2 separate regions of the Homo sapiens genome follow, and region 1 is linked to region 2. The links come from fine-mapping of genetic effects on gene expression. Tissue or cell type: whole blood. Region 2 holds a variant in brackets; the other region holds the start of a gene. All regions are shown on one strand. Distances are from middle to middle.

Region 1 (12,209 bases), 130 kb after region 2:
TTTGCATAGACCATTTCATTCCAGGCAATATCACAGACTGCCACAAACGGAACCAGGCAATACCTAATGTGGCCTGTAAGAGGCCCAAGAGATAATTAAGAGAGAAGGAAAAGAAGACAGAGAATTAAAAAGTAAAAGGAAAGGAAAAAGGAAAAAACACCTAAAGTAAGAGTAGGAGGGGGTAAAAAAAGAGAGAAGAAAAGAGAAGCGTAAAAGAGAAAATAGAGACATACATGGTAGGCAGCCAGTTGCTTCAAGACAATTTACCTTATCCTGCCTTGTACAGTGTCTCTTTGCCTTTCTCAATTTTCAACCCCACTATAATTCAAATTTTTATAGTACAAGAAATACTATGTTCATTGTAGAAAATTAGAAAACACAGACAGAAAAAAATAAACATTAGCTATAATCTCACCATCTAGTTAAAATCTCTAATAACATGTTGGTCAATAATATTGTCATCTTATTTTCAGACATTTTCTTTTTATAAGAATCATACAGCTTTTAAGGCCGGGCACGGTGGCTCACGCCTGTAATCCCAGCACATTGGGAGGCCGAGGCAGGCGGATCACGAGGCCAGGAGATCAAGACCATCCTGGCTAAAATGGTGAAACCCTGTCTCTACTAAAAATACAAAATTAGCCGGGTGTGGTGGCGGGCGCCTGTAGTCCCAGCTACTTGGGAGGCTAAGGCAGGAGAATGGCGTGAACCCATTGGGAGGCGGAGCTTGCAGTGAGCTGAGATCAAGATTGAGTCACTGCACTCCAGCCTGGGCAACAGAGTGAGACTCCATCTCAAACAGCAACAACAACAACAGCAACATACAGCTTTTATTGCTTTGTACCATTTTTTCCCACATAAAGTATTATGACTATTTTTCTACCTCAATAAATACATGCTTCTAAAATATCATTTTAAATAATTGCTTCCTTTTAAATTTAATTCTATAAGAATTTAATTTATAGGATACATATAGCTCTTTATATGCTTTTGCTACATCAGTTTTACATTATTGTCATGTTTGTAAAATCTCAGAATAACTAATATAAATATTTTGTGGCATAGCATAAAAAAGTTATTTAATGTCTATTCCTATAAGAATTAGAACCAGAAACAAATGATGTATGTGATATAGGCCTGTCCTGGGCTGTGCCGAAGAGGAGTAAGAAGCCTAGTTGGAGAAAGAAGGTGAGTATTCTTATTCCTCACTGTATAACAGATGTATATGAAAGAAGCTATGTGTTCATCAAAAGAATCACATTGTAATTTGAGACATACAGAAGTACAGATGCACCTCAACTTATGATGGGGTTACTTCCCAATAAACACATCATAAATTGTAAATACTGTAAAGTCAAAAATGCATTTAATACACCTAACCTACCAAACATCATAGCTTAGCCTAGCCTAACTTAAACATGCTCAGAACACTTACATTAGCCTACAGTCAGGCAAAATCATCTAACACAAAGCCTAGTTTATAATAAAATGTTGAATATTTCATGTAATGTATGGAATACTGTTCTGAAAGTGAAAAAAAAATGGTCGTATGGGTGCTTAAAGTACAGTTTGTACCGAATGCTGTCACTATTGCTTTCGTACCATCGTAAAGACAAAAAACCTTAAGTTGGACCATCGTAAGTCAGGGGCCTTCTGTATTTAGAAGTATGTATATATTTATTGAACTAGAAAAATAGTTGTATTTTTGCCTTTTTGAAGAAAATGCAACATGTGAATTGGCAAAATAAGTATTTACCATCTATTTTAGTTTAAAATAATAGGGAAAACCGACAGAGACTTAATTGAGAAGTGATTAGCCACTTTATCGTTGGTTTCAGAAACTATACTGCACCAGTTCTTTAGAATGTTTCCAGATGTTTCAGACCTATAGTTATTTGTTGTTAGTAACTCACATTTACCTACTAGAGAGATGTTATGTGGAAATATGTCGATTGTACTTGAGGAAGGACATCTAACTCAACTTTCACAGGTGAATTCAGCGATTTCTTTAAATGATTTGTATTTTCCAAAGTGATTATCTCAGCTGGCACTTCGAAATATAATCTAAAGCCTTCTGTTAGCCACAAATCCACAGAAATCCATAAAACCTAGAGTGTTTCATGTTATTATTATCAAACATTTATTGAACTTTCTACTAATGATCTTCTAGTTATTATATAGAGCCAAACATTCATTTTGTTATTCCTATGTAGAGAGACTCACAATCTAAATTTGGTCTAAATAGAGTGGGAAATTCACAAAAATTATGTTCATGAGGTTAAATAGTCAAGCAATACAAGTTCCTGTTTCCCATTGTAATGATTTACAAATGACAGTGGTAACAATCTCAAACAGAGAATTCAAATCCTTCAGTTAGCAATTCTTGCAATTATTTTTTAGCTTTATGGGGTTAACTTTATTGGGGTTGATTAAATTCAAGCTGTGATCTTTCATAAAAACTCAATAGAGAGTCCAGATGGCCCAACAATACCTCCTTTTGTGAGAGGAAATAACTTGAAGATTTTGTCTAATTAAAGTATTTGTGCTGGTGGGATCTGAATGAATTGTTTTTCCTTTAAAAGGAGTCTGCATTACAAATAATCTTTACAAAATACGAATTATTTAAAAATAGTGTGCTGCTTTCAGTATTTCAGTTATGTCCTAGGACTAGAGTTTCATGAGCATGACATTTTAAAGCTAGACTCTGATACCATCTTTGGGATTTCAGTCTGAAAATACAGTTCTGGAATATCAACAGAACAAGGCTGTGTGGAACAAAATGCCAAGAAGGTCAATGCACTACTTTCCTCCTGTTCCAGTCCCATGCTCACAATTACCTTAACTCTTGTCAAAATATTTTCTACAGTAACAGCCAAGACATAATTAGCACCTTTTCTTCATGTTGAAAATATCATTGGTACCCATAAAACAAATTTGGGGAAAGCCCTTAAGCACCTTAATGCAGCAAATGGCTACTGTGGATTGATACACCATTATTTGCCTAGCTGAAGGATTAATATCCCATCTTATCCTGCCTTCTTCCTCCCCTCAAGTAGGCCTAATTGTATGAGATAGAGAGAAAAAGAGAAGTCTAGGCAGGAGATGGGGATAAGGTAAAGAGTGGAAATACAGTTGGAAATTAAGCAAATATCTTACAAGTGTTTTGGCTATTTAGCTATTTACATCATTATTCTCCATCCTCTTTGTGTATTTTGTCTGTAATCAAGGTGATATTCTGACATAGGTTGTTCTCCAAAAGCCTGTCTTGTATCAGACAGGCTAAAGTATTGGTCAATTCTGTCATGAGTGGTAAGGCCCTTTATTTGGCTTTTCATATGTTCCTGATTGAGACTACAGAAGCCAAAGTTGTTATGATCAAAGATTTCCAGCAGGGGGTGTAGCTGCCTCTATAGGGTAAGTTCTTTTGAAGCCACAACATATGAAACATTTGAATATTGCAGTATTACCACTAATGGTAGAAGCTGGAATTATGATAACTTTTTTTATGACTGTCATGTCTTTTGATCTCAAAAAGACCATGCATATTAATACTTTATTAGGATGTGATGAAGAACTAGAGATTTATGAAGAAAATTTAAATTAAAAACCGAAAATGCCTGACAAATCTTATTCTAATTTTTTCAAAGTAAACGAGGAACAAAGAGTCCAGTTATTTTAATTATCCAGTACAGCAGAAGAGAGGCTTAACTTTTTTATTCTAGATAAGAAGAGTAGTTGATTTGAGAGGGCTTGTTAATATTTATTCCATTTCCATTTCTGTCCGATATTTGTGCGCGCGCATGTGTGTGTGTGTAAATAAGTTACCTATTTTCTTAAAAATTATCCTTTTGAGTAGGGAGGGTGGGTGTTTTAAAGCTTTTTCTCTGAAGTCTTGGCTCCTGATCAATTTTTAAAGATGCCATCTTACATATTTTTCCTCCTGCTCTTTGATGCCTTTTATTTATGGATATATAGGCATTATTAGCCACAGAATTGTGGCCCCCATTTCAGATTTTTATTGATACAGAAAACTCTATTTTTTGAGAAGAGCAAATTACATACAATAACTTATTTGTACTGGTAAACACCTTTAGACTATTAGTATTAATAAGAAACGAAGTCCTAAATTTCCAGGCTCCCTAAATCAAGATAAAGAACTGAAAATAATGTCGACTATGAAAATCATTGTTTGGAAATCGTGATCTTTTTTTTTTTTTTAACGTCTTCTGGTGTCTTCATTATAAGAAAATAAATGAGATTTCAAGTCTTCCCTGCCTCCAGTATCATGTCCTATAACTGAACATTACACCTTTTTAACGTTTTCTTTAGAAGCCCTGATTTATTTGGCTTTGGTTTATGTTGATACATGTCCATGATTATTAAAATTTCTGATTATTTAGGACATAATTTTTAAGGTATCTTTAGGGTGTACACTCTATAGTACTTAACATCTTATTCAGGTTATGACTTTGAACTGCATCATTATAACACTAAAAAGCAACCTTGGCTAACTTCAGTACCTTACGTAACATAAGAAATAAAGAATAACTTGAACTTAAAATACTTTTTATATGTTTACTTCGGGTATTCTTAAGGGCTTTCAGTACAAAGATAAAAACATGCGTTGGAATGCATCAACATTCCAACTTACATAAGTGGTGTAGATACCTATGGCATTAGTACCACATTTTGATGGTTGGACCACCCACCAAATTCCCTTCTCTCCTTTTTTACTTCTTTTTCTTTCTGTTTGCTTTCCTTGCAAGTTTCCTTCCGCATCCTTCTTTCCCACCTACAATTTGTAACTGAAAGAAAGAAGTAGCTACAGACCTTACCTAACCTACTCTTAACCTACTTGGTAGGTAGGGTTCAGATGCAAGGGAGTGGCTCGAATAAAGCATTTTAGTTATGCCTTTTAGAAATTAGGGAGCAAGAGATATATAGAAAAATTAGAAATGTCTCTTCTACCTTTATTAAGTCTACCTTTGAGAAATATGAAGGGCAGGAAGACGGAAAAACGAACAGAACTTCTGCTGGAATATTGTGACAAATTTACTGACAAATATTTTCTAATAGATTTTTACCAACAGGCAGTTTTTGTTTTCTTTACTGACAGACCGTAAATGTACTTCTGGTTGGCAGCAGCTGCATCATTATAACACAAAAGCAACCTTGGCTAACTTCAGTACCTTATGTAACATAAGAAATAAAGAATAACTTGAATTTAAAATACTTTTTATATGTTTACTAACATTAAACTATTTTCAATGCAGGAAATAAATATTTCCCCAAAGAGGAATCCCCCCTCAATTACTTTCTTTCAGACTTAACAAATTGGAGTAGATGTGGTTTTGCTCATTCTTTTATCTGCTGGCAACTATTTTAAGTCTCCTGTGCAAGGCAGATTCCGATGACCTCGGGAAAGTCACAGGACCTCAGTTTCTTCAATGGTAAAAGCAAAGGCAGTGGTTTCTACCGTCCTTTCTCACTGCACCATTCAGCGTCAGTGCCCTCATGAGAAACACACCCAAAGCCCAGTGTGCTCTACCCCAAAACTTGTGAAATTTCTAGAGTCTCAAAAAAGTGAATATGTTTAAGGCAGTATAATAAAAGCCAGGTGGACGACAGTTCCTAAAGTTAGGCTGGTAGTGGCGTGAACAGGGGTCTTTTGGGCCACCCTGAGACCCGCCCCACGGGGCTTCTCGATCCACGTCTTGGCTTCTCGCTCCACTTTCACAGAACGTACTGAATCAGGGGCCTGCATCCCCGTGCCGTGCCGAGCCGACGGAGAAATGGACTCCTCTTCTCGCTCCTGTGGAGTTTCGTCTTCTGGGTGAGTGTGGCACCGGGTCCTGGGCGGGTGATGTCTGTAGTTGGCGAGCGATCCTCAGCCAGAAAACTGGCTGCGCACACAGGCGCAGACACGCGAACATGTTCCTGCGAACGAGCTTGGGCGCATGTTTTCCTCCCTTGCTTTCTTTAATGCTCAGAGACCATAAGGGGATTTATCGAGAAGCATTCGGTGCCCATGCCCGGTTTGGAACCGCGAGCACAATATCTGGTTCCTTTGCAGTACGGTGGTTTGCTCTTGAGTTACGACCAGAAACCGGAACAGAAGGAAAGGGAGAAGCAGGGGAGGTTCGGGGACGACGGCGCTCCGGGCAGTAAGGCAGTAGCTTCCAAAGCGTGGAGGATGGGACTGAGGAGGAGCAGAATACGGAGAAAGAGGGAAGCTGAGGAAAAATACTCACGCCAATGGGTAAAAGGGAAAAGGTGAGAAGGAATGGAGTAGGGGAGGGAACCAATGGTGGGAGAGGCGGAGGAAGAAGGGGGAGGGGTAGAAGCCAATGGGGGAGTGGAGGGGAGGGAGAAGCAGAGGGGAGGAGGGAGCGGGGACGCGAGCGAGGACGCGGCCCCGCGCGCTCGTCCCCCTCCCTCCGACTGGATAGCTCGCGCCTTCCCAGGCTCCCGGGAGACGAGGGCAGGGGCGGGGCCGTGCCGGGTGCGCGGCGCGGGAGGCGTCGCGAGGTGAAGGGGCGGGGACGGGGGATTGTGGGGAGGGCAGCGCGGGTTCGCGCGCGCGCGCGCGTCCCGTCCAGGCTGCGCCGCCGCGCCGCCGCTCCGCCCCCGGTCGGGTGTGTGGCTGCGCGCGCCGGGAGAGATGCTGAGGTAAAGTTCGGGAGAGAGGGAGAGAAATCCGTCAGCGCGAGGGAGCCCGAGTGGCCGCCATTACTGAGCCCGGCGCGGCGGCGGGCGCTGGGGAAGGGGGGAGGGACGGGCCGCCGCTGGTGGCGGGGAGGGAGGGAGGGAGGGTGGGTGAGCTGGCTGCGGGAGCCGTGGGGCTCAGGGTTTCGGGGCGTGTGTGTCGGGGAGGGCGGGGGGAGGTGGCTGAAGGGACGCGCCGCTCGGTGAGCGCGCCGAGGAAGAGAGGCGAGCGGAGAGTGGAGGAGGAGGCGGCGGCGGCGGGAGCGGTCCCCAGGAATGTCGCTGCCGCCGCCACCGCCGGGGCCGCTGCCGTTGAGGAGGAGACGGAGGAGACCGACGTTGTTAGGTAGGACCTTGCGGACCCCGCTCCTCCAAGCCTGCCTGCCCCCTCCCGGACGGGGACCCTCCTGCGGCTAGCTGCCCCGCTCGGTCGCCGCTGCCGGTTGTAACCAGTTGAAGGGGCTGGGGCCCCGCGGCCGCCGAGGGGAGCCTGGCGCTGCGCTCGGTTTTCGCAGGCCGGGCGGGCAGCAGCTGCAGCGTTAGGGATACGTTCGGCGTGAAGGGCAGAGAGGCCGGGGGAGGGGGTGCTTTCTCCACAGGTGACGGGGCCAGGGTCGGCGGAGGCCTGATGCTGGCCGGGGATCGCCGGCCCCGCCAGGCGTCCGCTCTCGCCCGCCGCCTCACTTGCTCGAGTCTCGGGTGGTCCGTCGAGAGGGGAGGTGGCGGTGTCCGTTGGCCGGGTTGCTGCTGTTAACGAGTTCCACCTGGAAAGGGTACACGGGGCGGGTGCAGATTCGCGGAAACACAGTCTCGGTTGCAAACTTAAACGCCTTGTAGGGGGGATCGGCCCTTTCACTTTCCCTCATCTCCTCGACTCCTCCCTGGGTTCTCTTCACCAATTTTCCATCTGCTTTGAAGCTTGGAGTAAGATATGAGAAGTTGCACTGCGCATCCAGAGCCCAGAGTCCTATGGGCTGACTGCGACTGGGTTGAGGCTTTGATACTGAGTTTTCGCTAGAATAACCTCCAGATTCTTCCTCTCTTTCCACTAAAGAAAAGTATCGGGGTGGGGGTGGGGAGCCGCGCGGGAGCGCGCGCGCACTTATCCACACAGAAATACTCCCTCTCACCCTCCCTCTTCAGCGTTATTAGAAATGCAAGAGAGCTGGAGGCTCGGGGTGTAGCTGAGGTTGAAAGGTGCACGGAAGTAAGGGCAAACTGTTATTAGGCCGTTTAGTAAAATCCCGAAAAAGTTGTAGGGGAGACGCTTATACTTCTACCATGTGATAGAAATTCGGATTTGGCCATCGCTTAATAAATGGGAATTCAAATATTTTGAGATAGAGCAAGATAGGCATATAGATGGGTTTGTGCTTACGTTTTAAGTTTAAATTCTTATCGATCATTTATTTTTTCCTTTGTGATAGGCAGGAAACTGAATTTTTTTTTAAATGTTCAGGTGTAAAACAGCAAAATGCTTCGCTGTATTTACTAGTACTTGCTTATGTTGCTTTCTACAGGTAGGGGCGGGGGGCGAGTTTGTCAATTCCACTTAAATCCAGAACCAGTATTCAGTTAGAATGTTAGGTGGTGTTTATCCGCATGAAGGATCTCGTTCACTTCATGGGAGCTTGCTCTACATTTCCACTTAAAATGGTTCTCCTAACAAAAATTTCATCTAGATGCAGCGATTAGACATTTGGAATAATGTTTGGTTTAAAAATACGTTAATGAAACCTTTTGCTGTCAATTCTAGTTTATTTGTACTGTAATACGATAAAACGGTATTCTTATTCAGTGTTTGTAGATAAGTATTACTAACCGTCTAGGTAACCTACTAGATAGTTTCTTGAGTAAGATTTTGCTTTCATTTTAAATTCCTTTCTCATTTTTTGCTTTCATCTATCCTTTGTATACTAATTGACCTCCATTACCTTTATCTGTAGTACAAAGAGCGGTAAGTATGTGTCACCAAAAACTTGCAAAGACACTGGAGCAATTTATGACTAAACGCACTGGAGTGAAAGGCTGCGCATACCTATGCTTGTAACTTTCAAGAAATAGCACTATTGATCTAATTGACTTAAAGCAGAATCAGACGGTACAGATGATTAAATAACTATTGATTTGGTTGTCTTGTGTAGGCTGTGTTTTTAAACCTAGATCAACATGTCTTATTTTGCCATTCTTTGTACATTAATTATTAAGAGTACTGGGGAGTGAGGTGGGTTACACTTTGATGTAAGAATTGCGGCAGAATTCTGTTATCTTTATGAGTTTTGTAGTGTCCCTCCCCATTTAAACGACCTTAGCAATTTTTAAAATGTGTTGCAAAATTATTACCTTAATTCTGTCACAAGATACTTATCCTAAATGTTTTGAAAACCGTCTCCCCTTCTTATTTGTGTTTGAAAAGCATATTAGCACAGTCATTTTTTTGGAGAGTTATTTTGACCTTGAAAGTTAAGATTATTTAAGGAATGAATATTGTATTTGCATTCCTTTTTTGGATTTGAAGTAGCGATAATAAGTTTTCTAACTCACTTTTTTTAATTGAAGAAAAAGTTAGGTCTCATAAAGACTTTACTAAACTTTACCAACATTGGCAGGATGTAAGATGAGTGTTGGCCTTTAGTGGTCACTTCTTAAATATGAAATGGCATAATAGAGATTTTCTTGGTAGCTACAGAATAAGTTTTGTCGCAACTGTAGTTTCCATAGATACTATTTTAAGAACTATTTATTTGGGTTGTATGGTCCACAGTTTTTTCTTTGCATACCAAGAAGGTGTGTAGTAATATAATTGGCTGAAGAAGCATTGTACAGTGTTGTTTTAGTGATGTCTATGTTCCTAAAAGATACTTGTATTATATATTTAAAGTACACCAAGGGAATTTAATTTCTAAAAGACCTGTGAAGAAACATCAGTAGATTCATCATTCAGTAATTTGAGTAATCAGGCTCTTGTTTTAAGTGCAGGCTTTTGTCGATTATTTTATTGAAATAGGAAAAACCATATTAGAAATTAAGAAAAATGCTTCAATGCTAAGAATTTTAAGTATGAACTTTAATTGGTTTTCAAACTCTGTTCCTTGGATTCCTGTGGGTTTTTTTCCTAGATGCCTTGAGACTTCCTATGACAACCCACCCTCCCAAACCAGGACAGCTTCTATTTTCATGTATTAAGTGTATTGTATTTAAATATAAGAATATTTAACTTAATTAAATATAAGAAAAATATTTATTATTTAAATATAAGAAAAATAACTAATGGGTACTAGGCTTAATACCTGGGTAACAACAAACCCCCTTGACATGAGTTTACCTTTAAAACAAACCTGCACATCTACTCCTGAACTTCAAAGTTAAAAAAAAAATTCCCCTTAAAAAAAAACAAAACTGATCTGCATTAATTTTTTTTAAGTCTCTGATTCGTTATTCATTAGTTCAGATTACTTTTATTTAGCACTTACTATGTGCCTAGCCCTGGAAATACCAAGATAAATTAGATATAGGTATAATAGCTCAAGCTGTATAAAGGAGTAAATAGTTAAAAGTATTAAGAGGTGCAGGAAAGAGAATGCCTGTTTTCCTCAGGACCTCTGGGAATCATTCATAGAAGAAGAAACATTTTGAGTTTTAATTGCAAGCAGGAGTTTAGATGTAAGAGAGACCAAAAAGGATAATTTTTTTTTTCCCCCCACTGTGTTTTGGAAGCTGTCTACAGTACTTTAGATTTGCAGGGAAATGAAACAGATTGTTGATGCTTGGTCATATCTGTGTTTTACTTCATAGAATTATTACTTGGGAAAAAGAGCATAACCTTGTAATTTTGTGGTTAAAATGACTAGTATGTTACTTGCTTAGAGTCTCAAGCTTTTCATCATGAAGAGTTAATGGTAAAAATGGATATTCATTTTTCTAGTGTTAGATTAGATTTAGCCTATTTTATTATCCCTGACCAATATTTTATTGAGCAGCTAGGCACTGAGTGATACAAAAAGTATAAAATATTGCTCCCTTAAAAGATCTTTTAACTTCTGTGGAGAGACAGCAAGCATGACACTTTAAGAATTTGAGGTATATTTAGGGAAGTACATACTGATTTAAAAGTTAGTAGAAAGGAATTTAGCTAAAGGAAGTGTTACTTGGATTACATACTGATTTAAAAGTTAGTAGAAAGTTATTTAGCTAAAGGAAAGTATTACTTGGAAGTAGCATACAATTGGGATAATGAAGGGGGAAAAAGACATTTAGGGAAGTTAATGACAGTGTGGACTGAAAGCACAGGTAAGTAGAGGACAGATTAGCAGATGGGAAGAAAATATAAAAATGTGTAGTCCTAGCTACTTGGGAGGCTGAGGCAGGAGAATGGCGTGAACCCAGGAGGCGGAGCTTGCAGTGAGCCGAGATCGCGCCACTGCACTCCAGCCTGGGCGACAGAGCAAGACTCCTTCTCAAAAAAAAAAAAAAAAAAAAAAAGATGTAAGAGCATCAGTTTTGTACCTTATGAGCCAGAGTGAAAGATTTGGAGAAGGTATTAATGCAAGAGTGATAGAAGGGGTGATGTAGAAATAAACACGTAACGTTGGCATAACTATTTGTCTAGTTACTGTATTTGGTTTGTCAAACAGCCTTGGAAAAACTCTCACCTTGGCTTCTGATATGGCATAATTTGTTCATTTTCTTTCTGTTGATCATGTTCTTTTACTGATTCAAAATTGTTTCTTTTTATACTTACCTTTTCAGAGCCAAGGTAATATCTCTTTTAGAGAACTAGTAAAAAATTAACATTACTATAATCTAGAGCAGCGATCCTTTTTGGTACCAGGGACTGGTTTTGTAGAAGACAGTTTTTTCACGGAACCGGGGGCATGGTTTTGGGATGAAACTGTTCCCCCTCAGATCATCAGGCATTAATTAGTTAGATTCACAAAGGGAGCAAGCAACCTACAGTTCTTGATCCTCTGAGAATCTATCGCTGCTGTGGAGGCGGAGCTCAGGTGGTAATGCCCGCTTTCCAGGCCACCCCTCACCTCCTGCTGTGCAGCCCAGTTCCTAATAAGCCACAGATGGTTACCAGACCGGGGTTGGGGACCCCTGATCTAGAGAATTTAAGATCTAGATTTCTACTCTTCTGTATTAACCAAGTATCTAATTCTTCATATGTTTTCTTTAGAAAATAAGAGTATTACACCAAATGGTCTCATAGGTAATTTTCTGAAGTTTATGATGCTGAAATTTATGTTAATAATCCTGAACTTGCCTTGTTTCATTACCGAGGTTTCATTTGTCTTTGGAAATAACACCTGAAAGTGAAATGAACCACCATCTATTGCTGAAACTGATTAGTTTTTCATTAAGAAACACTGGCTTAATGTGTTGCCTTGTATTTCTTATGTCTAGTAGCCAGTTACCAAGCTCTCTTTGTCTTGCATTGCTCTTTTATTGATTAATTAATTAATTTTTTTTTTGAGATGGGGTCTTGCTCTGTCACCCAGGCT
Region 2 (12,209 bases):
CATGAACCCAAACTATAAAAACATAGAATTTTGAGAGCTCTAAGGAAATTTGGATGTTATCTGGTCAAAGCCCTCATTTTGTAGATTTGGAGCCAGACACACAGGTTAAATGTTAAGTGGCTTGCCTACGGTAAAAAGGCTAGCTAGTAACAGAAATAGGATGAAGACGTGTCTCTTGCTCTGAGTACAGCTGTCTTTTCTGCCACTATAGGTTTGGGTTTGGGAAATTAGTAGCCCAGAGCTGATTCCCACACAAACACCGTGTCTGTAATTCAGGTGTGTTGCTGCTGAATAGAGTGTTGTCTATTCTTAGTGTTGGTCTGAACTGCTGGGCTTCCTATCTGTATTGGAAACTGAGTCAAACAAGTATAGCCCTCTTCTTCCACCCAAAAATAGAGCTGTTTATCCCTCACCCCCTCCCACCCCCTCTGCTCAGGTGATGGGTACACCAAAATCTCAGAAATCATTACTAAAGAACTTATTCTTGTAACCAAACACCACCTGTTCCCCAAAAACCTATTTAAATTAAAAAAAATAGAGCTGTTTAATATAACAAATGTAGAATGAATGCAAAGAGAAAATGAATGCCTCTTGGGTACCAGCTGTGTGGCAAGCACTGTGCTGGCCCTTCATGGCAACTATGAGGAAACTGAGGTTGAAGACATTGTATCTCTTGTTTAAGATCTCACAGTACCAATTGACAGTTCTAGGATTTGTTCTATTCCAGAGCCTACAAGTTTTCCACCAATCTATGTTCCCTCCCTCAGCATAATTAATAATTGTTATACTATAAGGCTAAACTAAATTTATATCAAGATGTCCCAGAGAGTTATATCTTATTTGTTAACCATTAACTTTTCCCAATCAGACACTTAATGCAGCACTAGTTCCATCTTAAGACTAGAACAGAACACCATGGATGATGATTTTGAACCTCTTTTGGCCAGAAATGTGCCCAGAGTTCTAAACCTTGGACAGCTTTGCATCAAGACCTTTGGAGGCAGCTTTCACCTACTCATATACGTGATTCACCATCTCCATGGGGCCCTCTTTTCTTGATTATTAGGTCTGACTTTATTTACAGCTGAAATGTGATTCCCTTTTATGAAGATCATTTTTTATTCCAAAAAAGACCTTGGGTATTATGTCCTGTTCTCATGGTCAGAAATCTGAATGCTTCAATATACTGCATTTTGCTTTTCTTTCATAGCCAAATAAAAGAGAAAGACCACAGTTATACATAGTGTGTCAGTCTGGCTCACTCAGATTATGTTTGTAAAATTCCTTTTTCTATAGAGCTAATATTTACTCAGCACTGATGTCCCAGGCACCATATGGTATCCCAGGGACCATACTAAGCCCTTTCTATGGATGGTCTCTCTTAAGACTCAGAATAACCTTTTGTTTATAAACTGTCACATAGGAGGGTCAAACAACTCAGCCTGGTTCATACTGCCATCAAAAAGCAAAGCTGAGCTTCGAACCCAGGCTGTGTGTGCAAATCCCTGAGCTTTCAAACCACTGTGCATGCTGTCTCCCAACTCTTTGTTTTTTCTGTGCCTTTCTCTAGCCAGGAGGTTTTTCTCCACCTGCCCATTTATCTTCCATAATTCTTGCTCTTGGGACAGATGATTTCCAAGGTCCCTTCAAGTATTGAAATTCCATGACTGATTAAAAATTATAATGTATGCAGTTTGATTAATTTGCACTAATGCCTGAGTTCATTCACAATGTTAATTTCTTTACAAGGTTCCAACAGTTTTTTAACTTACAGATCTCCTTCTGATGTTAAAGGAATCATGCTGCTTTTCCTATAATAATATTTAAGTCCCCAGTTTTAAAAACATAAGGTTTAAAAATATATCTGAAAGGATTTTACCATGCATGCAACACACCAATTTTCCATATGGACCAAAATAGTCTTTTTAAGACCCTGTTCTCTCAGTTGTCTTTCCCAAGTCTCACAGATGCAGTGCTAATTGCATGCAGCTTCAGGTCCTTTATAACATGAGGTAACAATTTCAGTGTCTTGGGCTTGAATGCTGCATTTGTTAGACATGCCAGGCCTGGAATTGGTGTCAGCTCGTCAGGATGCTGAATCCACATGGAGAGCAACTCATCTGAACGTTGGGAAGCTTCCTGGAGAAACTCCTGTTGTGCTCCTCTCAGGCATGGCGTGAGAGCCAGTGGTGTGACTGGTTCCTTAGCTAGGATGCATCTTGGTCAGACTTGGCAGCACTGGGTGATGGCTCTTTGGGACCAGTGCAGGTATTTGAGTCTCTCTAGTCAAGTTGTACTTGTTGAAGAATGATTCCAGAAGTGACGTTTATTCACAGACCTACTACTTGGGCTACTTGGGCTAGCTCCAAGTGTCTGAGTGGCTCGGCGGCTGAAGGCAGACTGCACTTGGGACACATCTAAAATTCATTCTGACTGGATTGAGAAAACAAGGAGACCAAAAAGAAAAGAAGTGGCAGGATTCTGCAATCACATCTGTAACTGAGGAGCCACGGGATATAACTTTGGAGAATATCTTGACCTGATCTTGCTTTGCAGCTTGTCTGTAGTTCTAGTCTTTAGAGTCGCGGAAGCCTGAGTTCCCACCAAGCTCAGCTCTTAATGGCTGTGTGATAATGAAGACGTCACTTGATCTTCCTGAGCCTCAGTTTCTTCATCTGTAAATTGGGATGAGATACCTCCCTCATGGGTCTGTTGTGAGGACAACATGTGATGATCCTGCCAAAGCTCTCTAGGCACTCTGTGCTTAGCTGTGTGGCCAATGCACAGTCAGCAGCGACACGATGCTATTTTTACTGCCTTCTTTCCCTCTTTCCCCAAGAGGACACACTCCTCTAGAAAAATAAGGTTCATGCAAACCTGCACTTTAAGAGCATTTATACAGATGTGCACGATGCAGTGCATGTGTCTTGATGGGGCTTTGTTAAATTGAATTTTAAAATTGTGTTTTAAATATACTTAGGGAAGTACAGAAAGGTACCCCAGAACAGGTTGTTTTATAAAGACAACAATAATTTCTGAATTATTTTCATTTCAGCTTTTTATATACTGTGTAGTCACAAAATGAGAGACCCTCCCCCACTCACCCCACCCTCACAGCTCCCCAGAGGAACAATAGCCATGAGCAAACAGTGCTTGCCTCCTGACCTTCGGGTGTTTCTCCTAAAGGCTAGCTCATTTAAGGGCAGCAGTCAGGGGCTTGCTACTCTTCGCAGCCCTGTTTCTTTTCTTGTGATGAGAAGAAACAAGCCCAGGCTGACAGCTGGCCAAGACTTGAACTAGAATGTTGAAGTTGAAAAGTCAAAATGGGTCTGTGTCAAAGGACTAGCAGAGGGGAAGGGACTGTCCTCCGGGGAGCTGAGGAGTGAGGATGGTCCTCACCTCGATCCAGCGATCAAATTCCCCAAGTAAATCCATGTAAAACATGAACTGTGGCCAGCACTTGTTAAGCAAGGAATATTAAAAATCATTGTCATTACTGCTGCTATTATTGTTACAGGCTTGTTCCAAGACTCTGGGTTTTGGCTCAGCTTGTCTAAATGGTCTTCCATCTTAAGGAATCAAGGGGTAGATTTTGGAACCACTAGCTCCATAGCCAAAGAAGGAGCAATCCAGCAACTTAGGCATTGATTCCGCAAGCCGTCCCAGAGCCTCTGTGTAGTCCTTACTTTCCCTAAATTGCCATGACTAGCTGGCTCAAGTTAGGCCTTTCTAATTTACCTGGACCGTTGCTGTCTCCTGTGCACGGCTGCGGGGATGAGCACCTTGTTGTGCGTTCCTCCGCTGGGCTGACGGAAATGGTTTGCAGCCAGACTGCTACGCCACGCGGTCTGGCATTTAGTCCTCAGAAATCTGATTTAGAGAACGTATACATTGCATCACAATCTAGATTTCAGAGGAAAGTTTTGGATAGAATAACCCAGACCCAAGTCTGGGTAATTTAAAGCCTGGGTGAAATGGGGCAGAAAGAGCCCAGAATATACAGGTCTGAATCTTGGCTGGGGTGATGTGGAAGACTGGAGGCGCCAGACGGCTGGCCTCCCTCCAAGTGTTTACCATGCTGGTGCCATGGGGCTGGGGCTGGGCAGTCCATGTGCTCATTCTTCCCTTCTCTTCTCCTCCTCCTCCCCCTCCATCTCTCCTCCTCCTCCTCATGTTTTCTATAGGCTAGAGAAACTCAGGAACTACTGACCCACAGGGAAGGCAAGCGGAGATATGAGACGGAGGAATCAAACGCTGCCCTGGTGGAGGACGCTGTGGGTTTACAGTGGATGATTTCCTCTGCCTATGAGATAAAAGGGCTGGCTCTGTACTTTGAACCCCAGCCTCACCCACCTCTGCCTGGGTGTGGCTCTTACTCTCTGGAAGACTTACTCAGGGGAGAGGACAGGACAGTGTGAGGCTTGAATCTCCAGGAAATAGAGTCTGTGGGCAGCCATTGACTCCGAGTCAATGAGAACAAGGTGTGCTGTTTCCTCTGTGCTGTTTCTTCCCTGCCCCACTCCCCGCCCCTTTGTCCTATGGTGCCCAGGCTGCCTGCACTGCCCAGATACCACAGGCCTTGCCAGGGACCTCCTGAGAGGTTTCTGAGGCTTGCAGCCAGTGGTCCCGTTAGTCTGCACGTCTCCGAGTTGCCCTCCCAGAGGAGAAAGCATATGCTGCTGGGACCGACTGCAGCTCCTCATGGATGCACCTGCCACCAGAAAATTGTTGTTCAGTCTGGGATTGCTTTCTCTTCCCAAAGCACAATCTCACATGCAGTCATGAGCCCAGTCCAGCCTCTGGGACAGAAGATTTCGTGCTTTTATAAACCAACAGCACTGCAGGTGCTGCACAAGGTAAGTGTCTCCCTTATTTCTTTCCCTCCCCGGAAGCCTCTGTATCAAACTAGGAGTTACCTTAATAGGGT[C/A]AAAGGAGGGTGTGGCTGTTTCACTTCCTGTTGTCAGCAGCCAAGTGTGCCTGAGGACAGAGGGTGGTGGGCAGGCATCCATTATGTGTAGGGAGGCAGGTATTGTACTGCTCTGGAACACACTGAGGAAGGGGGGTGCTCTGGCTTCCCTGACACCACCTCCCTGGTCAGGCTGCCGCAAGGCACCCAGATGTCAGTTGTCTTCCCACAACCTAATCATTCACAGCTGCTCCAGGGCCACACTTAGGATCTCTTTCCAGCGGTCCTCTTAGTCTGCCCCAGGGGCATGGCAAAGGAGGGCCTTTCATCCAGGGATCTCACACTCACAGAGACTTCACATTTGGATTTTTAAAAATTTATCTCTGAAGATATGCTAATAAGACTGAAAAGATGGAAATGATCATCAGCTTTAAACTTATGCCTGATTTTGGTACCAGGCCCATGAATTTTTAAGATTAATCCTGCCATTATCCCGTGAATAGGATGGTTATATTACCCTGTGCGTTTTTTTTTTAAAGCTTACACGTGTTAAAGCCTTAATTTATTAAATGTAAACTTCTAAAATATAGTATATCACAATTTTTGAAACCCTATTTGGGGATTTCTTCATTTTAATATACCTGAAGCCTCAGATAATGGGCGTGTCCCTGGTCTTTGTCCTCCAAGCGGCCCATTGGCCACTCCCCTCTTGATGGACTGTGGAGAGAAGCTGTTCCCTTTCCACGTGGTCATTTCAACTTCAGAAAAATCTCAGGTGCAATTGCCTGTTTCATTACAGCAGCTAGCCTATAATGAAAGAGGCCTTCGAAGCTTAGGCATGCCCAGTTTGGCCCCTTTCTTCATTTTACACACTGTTTTCTCCTCCCACAGGAAGGCTTCTCTCTACGGGGCTCAAAGCTACAGGCTCTCCACCATAGGGAAAATGGCCGACTAATATTCTTGAGTTCTTTACCCTTAGGCAATGGGGCTCAACTGTGACTGCACATTGGAATCAGTGGAGAGTTTTCCAAACATCCATCCGATGCCTGGGTTCTACCCCCACAGAACCTGATTTACTTGACCTGGGGTGTGGCCTGGGCATTGGAATTTTTTAAAGCACCCCACATGATTTTAATACACTACAAAGTTTCAGAAACAGTGCCCTAAGACCCTGGTTCTCAAACATTAGAATTCATCAGAATAATGTCCTCGTGGGGAGGGTCTTGTTAAAGCATAGATTGCTGGGCACAGTTTCTGATTCAGAGTTTCTGGATGGTACCTGGTAATCTGCATTTCTAATGAGTTCCCAGGTGATGCGATGCTGCTGTTCTGGGGATCATGTATTTACAACAGTTGTGCTAAAAGAAAGACAGTTAGAGTGGTGGGTTGGGAGGAGAAATGTGAGTGAATGCATGAAAATGTAGTTATTTCTTATTCTCAACCTCTGCAGTTGGCTTCAGAGTCAGGGACACCCCTAAATTACAGCAGTTACAGAGTATATTGGTCACCAAAGCTGCCACTGTGCAGAGACCCAAGCTAGGATAGAGCTGAGCCCCAGCAGCTGGACCCTGGTTGGTGGGGTAAGGCATGGTCTGAAACAGTCTGGGGCTACAGATCAGCTCTGTCCAGTGAGAATATAATACAGGGCACAAGGGTGAGTCACTTATGTAACTTCATATATTATAACCACATTGAAAAAACTAGAAACAGGTGAGATTAATTTTAATAATCTATATTATTTAACTTAACCCTCCAAAATCTTATTTTAACAGTCATCAACATAAAAAATGATTAATGAGATATTTGGCATTCCTTTTTCATGCTAAGTCTTTGGAATCGTACATGTGTTTTACACTTACAGCACATCTCAATTCACACCAGCCACATTTCAATGGCCACACGTGGACAGTGCCAGCCTGGATAGACCTAAGTACTGGGGCCGTCTGCCCCTGACGTAGGACTGATCACAAAGGTCCTCACTTCTCCCGGCAGCACATGGCCCCTCCTTCCATGCCTCTCAGAGCTCTTGGAATCTGTTCTCAGCATCTGAGAATCCCTCTGGCGTTCTTTACCATCGGTGCTTTGGACAGCACAAAAGGTTAACCAGGTTTAGTCAGGTCTGCAGGGCTTGTTCCCTCATGTCTGTGCATCTGAGGTCAGAATCTGAGAGGTTTTCATAGCCACTCCCACTCTCTTTCCTGACTTCACCATCTATAGAGATGAGTTCAGCGCCGGGTTTTTGTTGGAGAGAAATGGGTGTCTGAAATGGATTGAGGAAGAGAGTGAGGGGAAGCTGTAGTTGGGCCTAACAGTAGAACCAGGATGGAGTTTCTTTCGAAAGCTGCAAGCAGGAATGACGCTGATACTTCTGGTGCCTACCCCTGTCAAAGGACTCCAGAGCAGTGTGAGGTTTGTGACAGGACCAGGGTGACAGTCATTGTGCTCTTCCAGCAGCATGCTGACCTCTCTCCAATTAAATTCACTAAACATACAAGTATTGAATGGCTACTGTGTTCTCAAGTATTGAATGCCTACTGTGTTCTCAAGTATACTGATAAGGCAGTGGGCTATAATTATTGGAACTACACATTTTGGAATCAGTCAAGCCTGAGTTCAAATCCCCACTTTTGCAATGTGATCTTAAGCAAGTTACTTAATCTCTAAGCTGTGGTTTCTTCATTTGCAAAATGTGGGTAATACCTACGTAGTAAACTCCTGTGAAGATAAAGTGAAGTGATACATGTCTTTTCTTAGCACAGTGCCTGACGCACTCAGTGAAGGCATTCAATGAATGGTAGTAGGCTGGGACTAGGTGAGGTGAGCAAAGTGCCTAGGGTGCAAAATTTAGGGAGGTACCCACTCTCATGGTTGTGCAGGTGACACTGCGTGGTGCTGTCAGCACCATCATCATTGTTGCAGTTGTGTAATTACACTGTAGTGTCATGGGCATTCCTGAGCTACATAAGGCATGGCCTTTTCTCTCAAGGAACACAGGGTCCCTGAGGGGAGAGAAGACATGTATGTATACAAGCAAGCCAGGACTGGGAGATGAGATGATTGCCTTGAGGGAAGGAGGAGACATTGCTTCCACCAAGGGATTCAGAGACTACATCCTTGAAGAATGGACAAGATATCTGCAGGCATAGATTGGAAGGAATGACAATTTATAGAGGGAATGGCTTAAAGCCGTGGAGGCAAAAAACTGCTCAGGGAACATGGAATGTTGCTATACTGGTGCATAGAGGCAGCTAAAAAGGAATGCTAACAGTCTGGCTGCAATCCAGTTGTATAGGGCTTTAAATACCAGGCTAAGGAGTTTAGACTGTATTTGGCTTAAAAAAAATGCTGGGGGGAGTCATAGATAGCATCCCCGGAAAGAGGGACCAGAAAATGAGGAATACCTTTTCCTTTTGAGACAGAGAGGTTTTTGAGAGTCAGAATATATTGCCATTGTCCTACCAAACACAAGGCTTCATGTCTCGAGGCACATGAAACTTGTAAATTGTGTCATCCATTACCACCCCTTCTTGATCCTACTCCCCTGGAGTAACCCCTATTACTGTTGTCGTATATATTCTTTCAGACTTCCCTCTATACGTAGACAATATATAGATTCACAATTTTTAACCAAAATTGGATCATGCTGTATTTACTGTTCTGTCATTTACTTTTTTAAGTGTCCTAAAATATATATAACATAAAATTTAGCATTTTAACGATCTTTAAGAGTATAGTTCAGTGGCATTAAGTACATTTCCAATGTTGTGCAACCATCACCACCATCCATCTCTACAACTTTTTTCATCTTCCCAAACTGAAACCCTGTACCCATTAAAACACCAATTCCACATTCTCCTCTCGCTCTAGACCATGACAATCATCATTCACTTTCTGTTTCTATGGATTTCACGACTTTAAGTACCTCATATATGGAATCACACAGTATTTGTTTGTAACTGGCTTACTTAGCATAACGTCTTCAAGGTTCATCCATGCTGTAGGATGTGTCAGAATTTCCTTTCTTTTCATGGTTGAATAATATTCCATTGTATGTATATATCACATTTAGTTTACCTATGTAACCATCGTCAGAGTTGCTTCTGCCTTTTGGCAATTGTCTGCTATTTACTTTTAAATAATATATCGTGGCCATCTTTCCATGTGAGTTCCTGTAGATCACCTCATTCTTCTTAATGGCTGACTAATAGTTTGCTGTATGACAGTGACTAGTGTAGAATCACAACACCAGCTAGTGGGGCAGCAGGGATTTGAATCCAGTTTTTTTCTGGCTCCAAAAGTTGAGTGTTTTTCACCATTCCAGGGGACATGCGGGATGTGTACATTTTGAACCATCACATGGCTGGCATGGTCTTATGCAAGTATAATATAATGTGCTACAATTTGATTAGGTTTTGAGAGGCTTCTGATCAATGAAGTGATGAGTGCTTGTGAGACCAGGTCTAGCTTTGATTTTGGAGTCCCTACTCTCTGTACTCCCACAACACAGTCATCACCAGCTTTTAGTCACTGCTGACCTGGCCACCTCTCAGGGTAGCTCTGGAAGAGTATTGAATAGTAGTAGCATCTTTAGGAAAGAAAGGACCACAGAGTTCATCTGGCTCAACCCTTTGTTTTAGGGAAGGAGGAAACTGGAACCTGAGAGATGAGCCCAAGGCTACCTGTGAGTTTCCCTCTGCCTCCACTGAGAGGGTGTGGCTGCTAAGTCCTATCAGAAGATGCCCCACACTGTTTTCATTCCAATTTTACTGACTCATAGTTACTCTGTTTATGCTGGAAACTCATTTCCCCAAGTGCACTGTTTTTATTGTTTATTTCTCTTGTATACATGTATTCTTCCAGCAGCCTGCCCAGGTTTATTAAAAGATATTTACGTTTTCTGATCACTTCTACTTCCTTCTCTTCCTCCCAGGAATGGAAAATCAATCTGAGTGTCATTAAGAGCATACTCCCTGAAGAAGATTGCTGATGACAGTGGATTTGTCACCCAGCTCAGTGTCTTTTCCTGAGCAATAGGAATTTCTTCCATGGGGAATGAAACCTAGTGTTGTTTCCCTGTCTGAATCCAGGCCTTTCACTGACCTGCCAAGTTTTCATTCCATTGTCTCACTGTCATTGGCTGATCTGATCTCTACATTGATTAATTAGTTTCAAGCCCCTTCATACTGATCTAATAAAATTGGCTTGTTTAATTTGTGTCAGGAAATTTCTGAGAATGTTTCATTTAGACTCTGATAAGGTACATTTTTTTTTTAATGTCCTGCCGGAGACATCCCTTACGAGGGAGAGCTTGTCCTTCCTGCCATCTCTTGAATTACGCAGAGCAAACGCTGAAAGGATGGCGGGATTTCCTGCTGCCAGGGTCAAATGCTTCCACAACAAGCAGATCTGTCTTTCAGGGTGCAGTTTTTTATGTCCTCTCACCAGAAACACATGAGAATGCCATCTTTCCACCTCTAGAGGTTGTCTGAGCTGCTGGTAAGCATCAAAACATAGCCATCGAGAGCCAGGACAGAGCCACGGCCACTTCACCAGCTCCAGTCTCATGCCACTTGATTTATAAATGCCTTTTTTTTAATGGGCTGTCATCCCCTCAGGAGAGGTTGGAGTAAAAGTCTCAAAGTTGAGTGTTTGCTCTTCTGTCACAAAGAGAAATGGATGGGAAGAACAATACAAATGGCCTACAGGCGAGCAGGGGACTCTGCAGAGCCGAGCCCCATCCTGGTCTGATTCAGGCACTCAGTAAGCCTGAATGGGGCGCGGTTACTGGGGCGTGGTTACCCGCTGGCTGGGATGAGAATTCTCATAACTACTTTCCCAGTCGGCAACTGCCAGGATGCAGGGAGCTTGTTTAGTTAACACTATGAGACCACTGGATCCAACTAATCTCTATTTGCCTGTCTCCCCTAAGATAACTTTCATAAAAATGTGTAAACATGTTCTGAGAGTCTTCTGAAAATTCCCTCAAAGCCCCCTGACCGCCTGCCCTCTAGCTGGGGCTGTGGGGGCGGTGGCTGAGGCGCCCCCCTCCGTGGGAGGCTCCTCATACATCTCTGTCAGGAAAGGCAAGAGCCGCAGCCAGAAATGAGCTCCCCCAACAAAGCAGCCTCCCTGTGTGCTGCTGTGCAAGCTGCAGCATTTGGCTGATTCATTTGTCTTCATTAATGTTGCTTATAGCGGAGGCCTTTGTCACATATATGATTATGTGAGATTCGATTCTCTCGAATGTGTAAACACAGAGCTCTAGTGCGAGGCTCCAAGCAGGCAGCAGCCTGAAGCAGCTTTTCTGGCTGTTGGGGAGCCGGCTTATGTGATCAGCCCCTAGGGATGGGGCCGTACTGTCAGGGACTGGTTCTTGCAGTGATAAGGGAAGAGCTGCCTGGCTCTTCCGCCCCAGGCCTCAGGGCTTGCCTCTCCCTCCAGTCCCCTCATAGAGTATATCCTCCCCCATGCCTCCTTCCCCTCCACGCCACATGCCCCAGGCTCCCTGAACATTACCACCTTAATGTCTCCTAGCTTCGTTTCTTCCTGCCTCCCCTTCCAGGGTCCCACCTTCATCTCAGGCCTTCATCATCCCGAGGCTGGATTCCTGCAACAGCTTCTTAATCATACTCCCTCCCTCCGGTCTTGTTTCCCTCCAACCTGTTTGACACCCTGCTGATATCTTAATCTCTAAAATGCATATCAGTTTGGGTTGTTCCCCTTCTCTAGGAAAAGGTCAAACTGTTTAATAGAATGGTCTAGGAGGCTCTTTAGGACTAGGCTCCCAGAACCATTTCAAGCATCAGCCCACCAATGTGCTCATTCTCCTACCCCTCTCTTCCTCCCTGTTTTGGGGTTATACTTTGCCACAGGGTTCCAAAACAATTCTAATTCATGCCTCATATCTTAGGCCTTTTAGATAAAGCAATTTTTAAGATTTTGAATTTACCCACTCCACTATTTCTCAGATTAAAATGAGAACTTGGGAGGCCGGACCAAGTGAAATGTCCATGTCACTGTTTTACTAGGCATCATTCTGCAGGTTTCTTTTTGAGCTGTCCTACTCAGGCCACTTTAGTGCAGGAAAAAGAAGTCATTACCAGAGGAAAGAAGGAAGGGACGCTTATTGAAGGATGTGCACGTGTGGAACCCAGAGAAGTCTGGCTTCAGGAAGGGCGAAACCAGGACAATACTAGAGCCCGGCTGCACCCCGTGGCCTCTTTGCCTCTTTCTGTCCTCCTTGCTTTCTCGTGACCAGCATCCTCTGTTTACTCATCTTGTACACAACCCAGAATAGCAGCCA

Evidence for each region.
Region 1: it holds the start of ARHGAP5-AS1, and the variant in region 2 is fine-mapped to the expression of ARHGAP5-AS1 in whole blood (TOPMed, PIP above 0.99). The same link has a PIP of 0.9 or more in T cells.

Annotation. Positions count from the first base shown.
Region 1 is chr14:32,070,385-32,082,593 of GRCh38, forward strand. It overlaps ARHGAP5-AS1 (ARHGAP5 antisense RNA 1 (head to head)), which reads right to left and starts at 6,315. Exons shown (of 1, transcript NR_027263.1): 1 at 5,035-6,315. It overlaps ARHGAP5 (Rho GTPase activating protein 5), which reads left to right and starts at 6,920. Exons shown (of 7, transcript NM_001030055.2): 1 at 6,920-7,051. RefSeq lists silencers at 6,341-6,600, 6,961-7,180, 6,979-7,273.
Region 2 is chr14:31,940,253-31,952,461 of GRCh38, forward strand. LINC02313 (long intergenic non-protein coding RNA 2313) reads left to right here and starts at 4,601. Exons shown (of 2, transcript NR_146544.1): 1 at 4,601-4,856; 2 at 9,837-10,042. RefSeq lists enhancers at 3,883-5,082, 10,483-11,102. The variant C/A (reference allele first, on the strand shown) is at 4,928.